Homo sapiens: one gene and its partner. The protein of the gene in region 2 purifies or fractionates together with the protein of the main gene of each other region. This does not show direct contact. Each region holds a gene or a part of one and is shown on either strand. Other genes may lie near its edges. The genes, in order: ITPR3 and DYNLT5.

Region 1 (3,813 bases), on a different chromosome or scaffold from region 2:
ACTTCCAGGAAGGGGCTGGTTGGCTTCTCTACACTCTGGGGCTGCTAAGGGCCGACCCAGCAGCAAGGGACTGGGGAACCTCCTTCCAGAGGAAGCCTGGAGAACCCAGAGGCCTGCTAGTGGGGTTGGAGCTCATGAGGGGGTCGGGACCACCCCTCACTCCTGCAGCGCCCTCCTGTCTATGCAGCACATTTCTGTGCGCTGTCTCGTTGGCCTGTAGAGGGGGTGTGGTGGATTATTTTCCCCACGTGGCAGGAGACTGAGGCTCAGAGAGGCTAAGGGGTTTGCCCAAGGTCACACAGAGCTGGGAGAGAAGCCAGGCTTGGCAGCTCCCAGCCAGGGCTCTGAGCAGACAGACATCACGCTGTGTTCAGGGTGTCTCTGTGGGTGTGGGCCCCTCAGACAGAGGCAGGGCAATCTGTGGGGCTGTTTGGCGTTTGGGTCGGAGGAATGGCAGTCACACCCGGGTCATTTCTTGGGCCTGGCAATGACTCTGCCCTGCCCACCCCAGGACATCATCACAGCCCTGGAGGAGCGGCTGAAGCCCCTGGTACAGGCTGAGCTGTCCGTGCTGGTGGATGTCCTGCACTGGCCTGAGCTGCTCTTCCTGGAGGGCAGTGAGGCCTACCAGCGCTGCGAGAGTGGGGGCTTCCTGTCCAAGTGAGCGAGACACTGGGGCATGGGGGCAGCAGGGGTGCAGCGGCAGGGGACAGAGAAGGGCCCGGTGGGGACTAGACAGGCTCACTGGGTCAGAGGGCCTGGGGGTGTTCCTGCCTGGGATGGGGTGGGGAAGTAGCTGGAGGGAGGCAGTGTGGGGCTGCCCTGAGCTGCCTCCTTGGCCGGCTCAGGCTGATCCAGCACACCAAGGACCTCATGGAGTCGGAGGAGAAGCTGTGCATCAAGGTGCTGCGGACCCTGCAGCAGATGCTGCTCAAGAAGACCAAGTACGGGGACCGGGTGAGTGCCCTGGTGGGGCAAGTGCTGGGTGGGCCAGTCAGGAGTACCCAGGGGCTCAGGGTCAAGCCCGTCAGGCCAGTGGTCAGTGGTGGGCTGTACCCACAATGGGGCCTCACTCCCATCCTCCCCCAGGGCAACCAGCTGCGCAAGATGCTGCTGCAAAACTACCTCCAGAACCGGAAGTCCACCTCGCGGGGGGACCTTCCCGACCCCATAGGCACTGGTCAGTATCACCTTCCCCTGCCCCCGGGCCCTCCCTTCCACTCTCCTGTCACACCAGCTCTCCCTCAACCGAGTCCCGCCTCCAGGCCTGGACCCAGACTGGTCGGCAATCGCAGCCACCCAGTGCCGGCTGGACAAGGAGGGGGCCACCAAGTTGGTATGCGACCTCATCACCAGCACCAAGAACGAGAAGATCTTCCAGGAGAGCATCGGCCTGGCCATCCACCTGCTGGATGGTGGCAACACAGAGATCCAGGTGTGGGGGGCCTGGGGCCTGGACATGCCCTCCTTTGCCTCCCTCCCTTTTTGGAGGAGGTGGGCCTTGAGTTGGGCACTGAAGGCCGAGGAGGGTGTGAAAGAGGAGAGGCCTGAGCAGTGGCTGAGAGGTGAGAAGAGTGGGCATGATGGGGGCAGGGTGGTGAGGAGACGGGCTCAGGCCTGGCTGGGGCAGAGGGGTATGCGGGGGTGATGAAAGGACCACGTGACACAGGAGCAGATATGGGGCATGGAGCCGCCCATGGGTGGCCATGGATGCTAGCCACCAGCACCCAGGCCTGCAGCCAGGCCCCTGCAGCCCCAGCGGCCCCAGCAGTGTGGTGTGCCTGCCCCACGCCCTGAGTAGGAGCAGGGCCCAGTGCTGAGGTTGTTCCCTGGCCACTGTCCACCTCCAGAAATCCTTCCACAACCTGATGATGAGTGACAAGAAGTCAGAGCGCTTCTTCAAGGTGCTGCACGACCGCATGAAGCGGGCCCAGCAGGAGACCAAGTCCACGGTGGCAGTCAACATGAATGACCTGGGCAGCCAGCCACATGAGGACCGCGAGCCAGTCGACCCCACCACCAAAGGTCAGGGGTCTGAGGCAGAGGCACGGCGTGACGGGGATCCCAGGATAAGATGTGCAGGGGGGTGGCCAAGGGGGTGGGCAGCTCCAGCCTCACCAGGTCTCGCCCACAGGCCGCGTGGCCTCCTTCTCGATACCTGGCTCCTCATCCCGCTACTCGCTGGGCCCCAGCCTGCGCCGGGGGCACGAGGTGAGCGAACGTGTGCAGAGCAGTGAGATGGGCACATCCGTGCTCATCATGCAGCCCATCCTGCGCTTTCTGCAGCTGCTGTGTGAGAACCACAACCGGGACCTGCAGGTGAGTGCCTCGCCACACACCTGCCCCTTCCCCCGCTGGCCAGCCGGCATGCAGACTAGGCAGTGTGGCTGGTGTCCCTCTATGGCAGGTGTGCCCTGCCCTGGGCACTGCTGCTTTGTGGCTGGTGGTTCCCCTACCCCTGCAGCACACAAGATCGTGCTTCCCAGGCCAGCCTCCCTCTCCGTGCTGTAGCTGTGCTGTGCCCAACCCTTCTGTGCCCCGCAGAACTTCCTGCGCTGTCAGAACAACAAAACCAACTACAACTTGGTATGCGAGACGCTGCAGTTCCTGGACATCATGTGCGGCAGCACCACGGGCGGCCTGGGGCTGCTGGGGCTCTACATCAATGAGGACAACGTGGGCCTCGTCATCCAGACCTTGGAGACCCTCACTGAGTACTGCCAGGGCCCCTGCCATGAGAACCAGGTGAGCTGTCCTGGTGGCATAAGTGGCAGCCAGGGTGGCAGTGTGGACATGTGGGTAGATGGAGCCAGCTGGGGCAGGGAGAGAGGCTGAGGTCTCTGGAGCTGCCACTATTCTGAGAGGGCCTGGGCCCTGTGTCCCCCACTGCCTCCTGCCAGACTTGCATTGTGACTCACGAGTCCAATGGCATAGACATCATCACCGCACTGATCCTCAATGACATCAGCCCCCTGTGCAAGTACCGCATGGATCTGGTGCTGCAGCTCAAGGTGGGGCCCAGTGGCAGGTGTGTGAGTGCTGGGTGTGCATGTGATGTGCATGCATGTATGTGTGACTTGTGTGTCAAGTGTACATAGTGGTGTGTAATGTGGGTGTTAGCATTGTGTGATGGGGCATCATCTGGATGCACAAGTGTGTGGTGTGTGCAGGGTGTGTGTGTAATATACGCATGTTTAAGCATGCTGGAACATACACTCACTCTGGATGCAAATATATTCTGGTTTAGCTGAGGACTTGCTATGTGTGTGTCTGCTGTCTGGGTAGCTGAGTGTTTGCCACAGCGGGGGTGAAGGCAAGCCTATGGGTGGGCTGGCTGTGCAGGATGCTTCTCATTAAGCCGGGGGGAGGGAGGATGGGAAGGTCATGGCACCTGACCTTTTGTTGGATGGGAGAGCTGTTATGGAGAGGAATGAGGGAGAAGTTGTCAGGGGCATGGTGTCCTGAGACTGTGGCCTGCCTCCCTCTGCCCCTCCACCCAGGACAATGCCTCCAAGCTGCTCCTGGCTCTGATGGAGAGCCGGCATGACAGTGAAAATGCTGAGCGAATCCTCATCAGCCTGCGGCCCCAGGAGCTGGTGAGGCTGGGCAGGTGGGCAGGCGGGCGGAACCAGGTGGAGTGTGTTGGGATGGGGATGAGGGCCCGGCTGGCCCTACCGCCCTAGGAAGAGAGCATTGGAACAGGCACTGCCCCTCCAGGTGGACGTCATCAAGAAGGCCTACCTGCAGGAGGAAGAGCGTGAGAACTCGGAGGTGAGCCCACGTGAAGTGGGCCATAACATCTATATCCTGGCG
Region 2 (3,913 bases):
TCATGATTACTTAGAGAAGAAATACTCCCTCTTTTCTTCCATGAATGAGCTGCTCTGCCTTTAGCATTGTCTGACATCATCATAACCTATGGAAGAAGACTTTTGTAAAATAGCAAAAGAAAGATCCGGAAACATTTTAGTTAGTATAACAGGGACTAATCTCAAAGTACACAGATAGTTTTCCTACCATTTTTGAACAGGAAAGTGGGGTTTCCTCAAGAGCAATATATAGAATTTGTTGTTATTCTGATCAGTGAAACTGGAACTATGATAACTCTGAAAATGCTTATTTATGCAATAGTATAATTATTTACATAAGCAGATATTAAGCTATAGCAAAAATGCTTAGCTGATGAAGACGGAGGTCATTGACAAAAGATATGCATGTATAGCAGAAAGATGCTATCCTACATCAGAAACCAATATTTGTATTGCCCCCCAAATGTAACCATAATACAACTTTGCTAATTAATATTTGCTGTCACTGTTATATTTTATTTTTGAGACAGGGTCTTGTTCTGTCACCCAGGTTGGAGTGCAGTGGCATGATCATGGCTCACTACTGCCCCAAACACCTGGGCTCAAGCGTTCCTCCCAACTCAGCCACCTGAGTAGCTGGGACTGCAGGTGTATGCCATCAAGCTGGGCTAATTTTTAATTTTTTGTAGAGATAGGGTCTATGTTGCCCAGGCTGGTCTTGAACTCCTGGGATCAAGCAATCCTGCTTCAGCCTCCCAAAGTGCTGGGATTACAGGCATGAGCCACTCTACCTGGCCTATTTTATTATTTTAGAGACAGGATCTAGCTCTTGTTACCCAGGCTGGAGTGCAGTGGCATGATCATAGCTCACCGTAACTTCAAACTCCTGGGCTCAAGCGGTCCACCCACCTCAGCCTCCCTAGTAGCTAGGACTACAGGCCTGCACCACCATGCCTAGCTAATTTTTAAACATTTTTGTAGAGACAAGATCTTTCTGTGTTGCCCAGGCTGGCCTTAATCTCCTGGCCTTAAGTGATCCTCCTGCCTTGGCCTCCCAAAGTGCTGGAATTACAGGCATCAACCACTGTGCCTGACCCACCATGACTTTAAAAAATAAAATTAGGGGTAGGGAGCTAGAAAATAAATAAATAAATAAAAATTAAAATTAACCTTGCTTTCCCAAAGATTTTTTGTTGTTTGTTTTGTTTTCTCGAGCAACATTTACATAGTTTGTAAAGAGCAAATAGGACTTAACTTTTAAATAAATAATTTATTGGAAAACTCCCTCCTTCCTACTAATACTTGTTAAAAAGCTGGTAGTAGCAATGGACTTCCCAGAACTTGGACTATAACTCTAATAATGCCCTCATTGTCTACCTACAAATTTAAGTATTCATTTAAATTATTTCATAATCTATAAATGTGAGAGCCCCGATAAGGAAATACTGTGCTAGACACCAAAGCATAAAAATAGAAGAGAATCCATGCCTTCAAGGAGCTGGCAGTTGAGTAGGTAGGGCACACAAGAACATACCCTAAAACCCAGTGGCATCAATGTCAGAGCAGAGGTGCTGTGTGTGGGTGAGGCAGGCAGCGTGGTGTGTGTGTGCACGTGAGTGTGAGCGTCCTTGAGTGTGTACCTGTGAGTGTGCATCTCTGTGTGTGCAGGTGCCTGTGTGTATAAGTGTGTCTGTGTTCGTGTGTACGAAGGTGAGTGTGTTTATGAGTGTGGAAAGACACACAGCCTGATTAGGTGGGTCATTCAGGTTTTGCTGCAAAGCCACATAGACCCATCTCGGCCTCAGCTGTTTCCAAAGCTGCCCTGCAGGCCGCCCCCTCCCCAAGAAAGGCCAGAGTTGGGACCTGGAGGTCCTCATGGGTGCGGCCAGCCACAGGAAGACCGCCCCGGGTCAGGGGATGACCTTGCTGGCCGGCTCTGCGTTGGCCATCACTCTTGAAGCCCAGCCCCCAGCCATGCAATGGGGCAGGGGACGAACCGTTGGGACCGACTTTCAGTTCCCAAATTTGGGATCATTTTTTCTTATGTGTTGGGGAGAGGAGGAATAAGGTGGCGGAGAGATCGGGGCCAAGTAGGGCCATTTCTCAACAAAGGGCCGATCCCTTGCCCCCTATCCTTCCTTTGGGGTCCAGACGCGCTGCAGAGAGAGGCGACCCTACCTGCAGCAGGGAGGCTTCGCCCGGAGCCTCCCAGACCTCCGGCACTGCAGACACTGCGCGCGGCGCGGCTCCCGCGTCCCAGGCTTCATTCAGCCGGCGGCCGCCCGCGCACTCTCCCTGGACTCTGAGGCCGGTCTCCAGGGTGACCTCAAACAGAGCCCTCGGCCCTCCCCGGCCGGACTTGGCCGCTGAGTGGCCCTCTGAGCTGCCCTAAGGATGTAGAGGATCTCATCTTCACTGCCCACTGGGGGTCACTCTGAGCCGGGCTGCGTCCTGGGTTGGCGGCGAGCTGGAGGGGAACTGGTTCATTGTGTAGCGAGGAAGACATTTGGGACTAAAGACATTTGCACCCCTAGGGCCCCTCATCAAGTTCCTTTTCCCGCAGACATCAGGGGCAGGAGTGGGAAGTGCTGCGGTTTCCTAGCACAGGAAATCCGAAGCGCAAAGACAAAGTAAAGTAGCCCTGCCCTTTTCCCGGCTCCTAACGCTGCTTCGCACGTTCCCCCTCCAAGGCACAGGCGGTGGAATGTGGAGGTAAATGAGCACTTACATTGGCCAGATACCCCAGATACCGACAAACATTGGGATTTAGTCGTCCCAATAACTCTGTCAAGAAAGGAATGTTTTCCCTTTAAAGGATTTGGAAAATTGAGATTCTAAAATGTTAAATAATATGCCCAAGGCCCCTGAAACTCATGGTCTTAACTCCAATGTGTTACAAACCGGGCTGGGTTCCTTCGCTTTCCTTAACAAGACTCTTCTGAGCCTGTTAATGTCTAAGAAGCTTTGAAATGAGGCTGTTTGGGGTTGAGGACCTACCTGCTGGTATGAATGGGCTTTTCCTCTTCTTCAGCGACTATCCCCAGCCTAAGCCTGGTTTGGGCCTCCCCAAACCAAAAGCAAACAAAATAAACACTATAGGGACCCTCCTGTAGTGGGCAATCATTGGAAGCAGAAACAAGATGCCTCCAAGCATCTAGCCAAGGGCATGGCTCTTGATGAGTGTCCTGCTGGAATTAGCATTAGCTGACAGTAATACATTGGGATTCCGGTGGAGCACAGTGTTAGGATAGTGTTGGAAGAAGAGAAATAGATATTTTTGCCCATCCCAATCTCTACTCACAGAAAGATAAGAACAGGAAAGGATTGTTGATTGAATATCTACTATGGACTAGATAGGAACTGCTAGGTGATGAATAAACATTATCTCATTGAATTTGTTCAGTGACTATGACATAGGGGACATTACTCTATTTTTTTTTAAGATAAGGAAATGTAGAATCGTTGAGTAACATGCTCAAGTCGATATTTAAATCACAGAGCTGAAATTTGTCTAACTCTTAACCCTTGACCTTTGACAGACCTTTGGCCCACCATCCCTACCCTAAACATGGAATGAAGTTTTCCAGAAATGCGGGTAAAATTTTAAGAGGCTGACAGCAAAAGATATTCACAATTCAATTTATTTTCATATTTTTCATTTATTTTCCAGAAAAAGAAATCACATTTCAGTAACAACTTACATATAGAATTAAACTTTGTTCTGGAATGGGAGCCCTAGTTGCAGTAACGTGTCATAATAAATAATTGCATATTCAGGATTTTGTGAAATAGGTGATTGGGAAAATTATGAACAAAAAACATTTACAAAAATTATTATTTACAAAGAGTGATATCCATACTATTTCTAACTTATAAGGCAAGTAATGTTAAGATGGTCTCATGATTATCTTCAACAAGTCAATTACACACTTTC

Evidence for each region.
Region 1: the proteins of DYNLT5 (region 2) and ITPR3 purify together in Homo sapiens (affinity purification with mass spectrometry; one large-scale study listed by BioGRID and IntAct). This does not show direct contact.

Annotation. Positions count from the first base shown.
Region 1 is NC_000006.12:33,683,509-33,687,321, forward strand, and holds part of ITPR3 (inositol 1,4,5-trisphosphate-gated calcium channel ITPR3), read left to right. Parts: intron 1-511; coding exon 512-660; intron 661-848; coding exon 849-957; intron 958-1,089; coding exon 1,090-1,180; intron 1,181-1,265; coding exon 1,266-1,435; intron 1,436-1,850; coding exon 1,851-2,025; intron 2,026-2,134; coding exon 2,135-2,319; intron 2,320-2,544; coding exon 2,545-2,745; intron 2,746-2,900; coding exon 2,901-3,011; intron 3,012-3,500; coding exon 3,501-3,596; intron 3,597-3,717; coding exon 3,718-3,813.
Region 2 is NC_000001.11:66,750,829-66,754,741, reverse strand, and holds the start of DYNLT5 (dynein light chain Tctex-type 5), read right to left. Parts: upstream 2,284-3,913; 5' UTR 2,158-2,283; intron 87-2,157; 5' UTR 84-86; coding exon 1-83.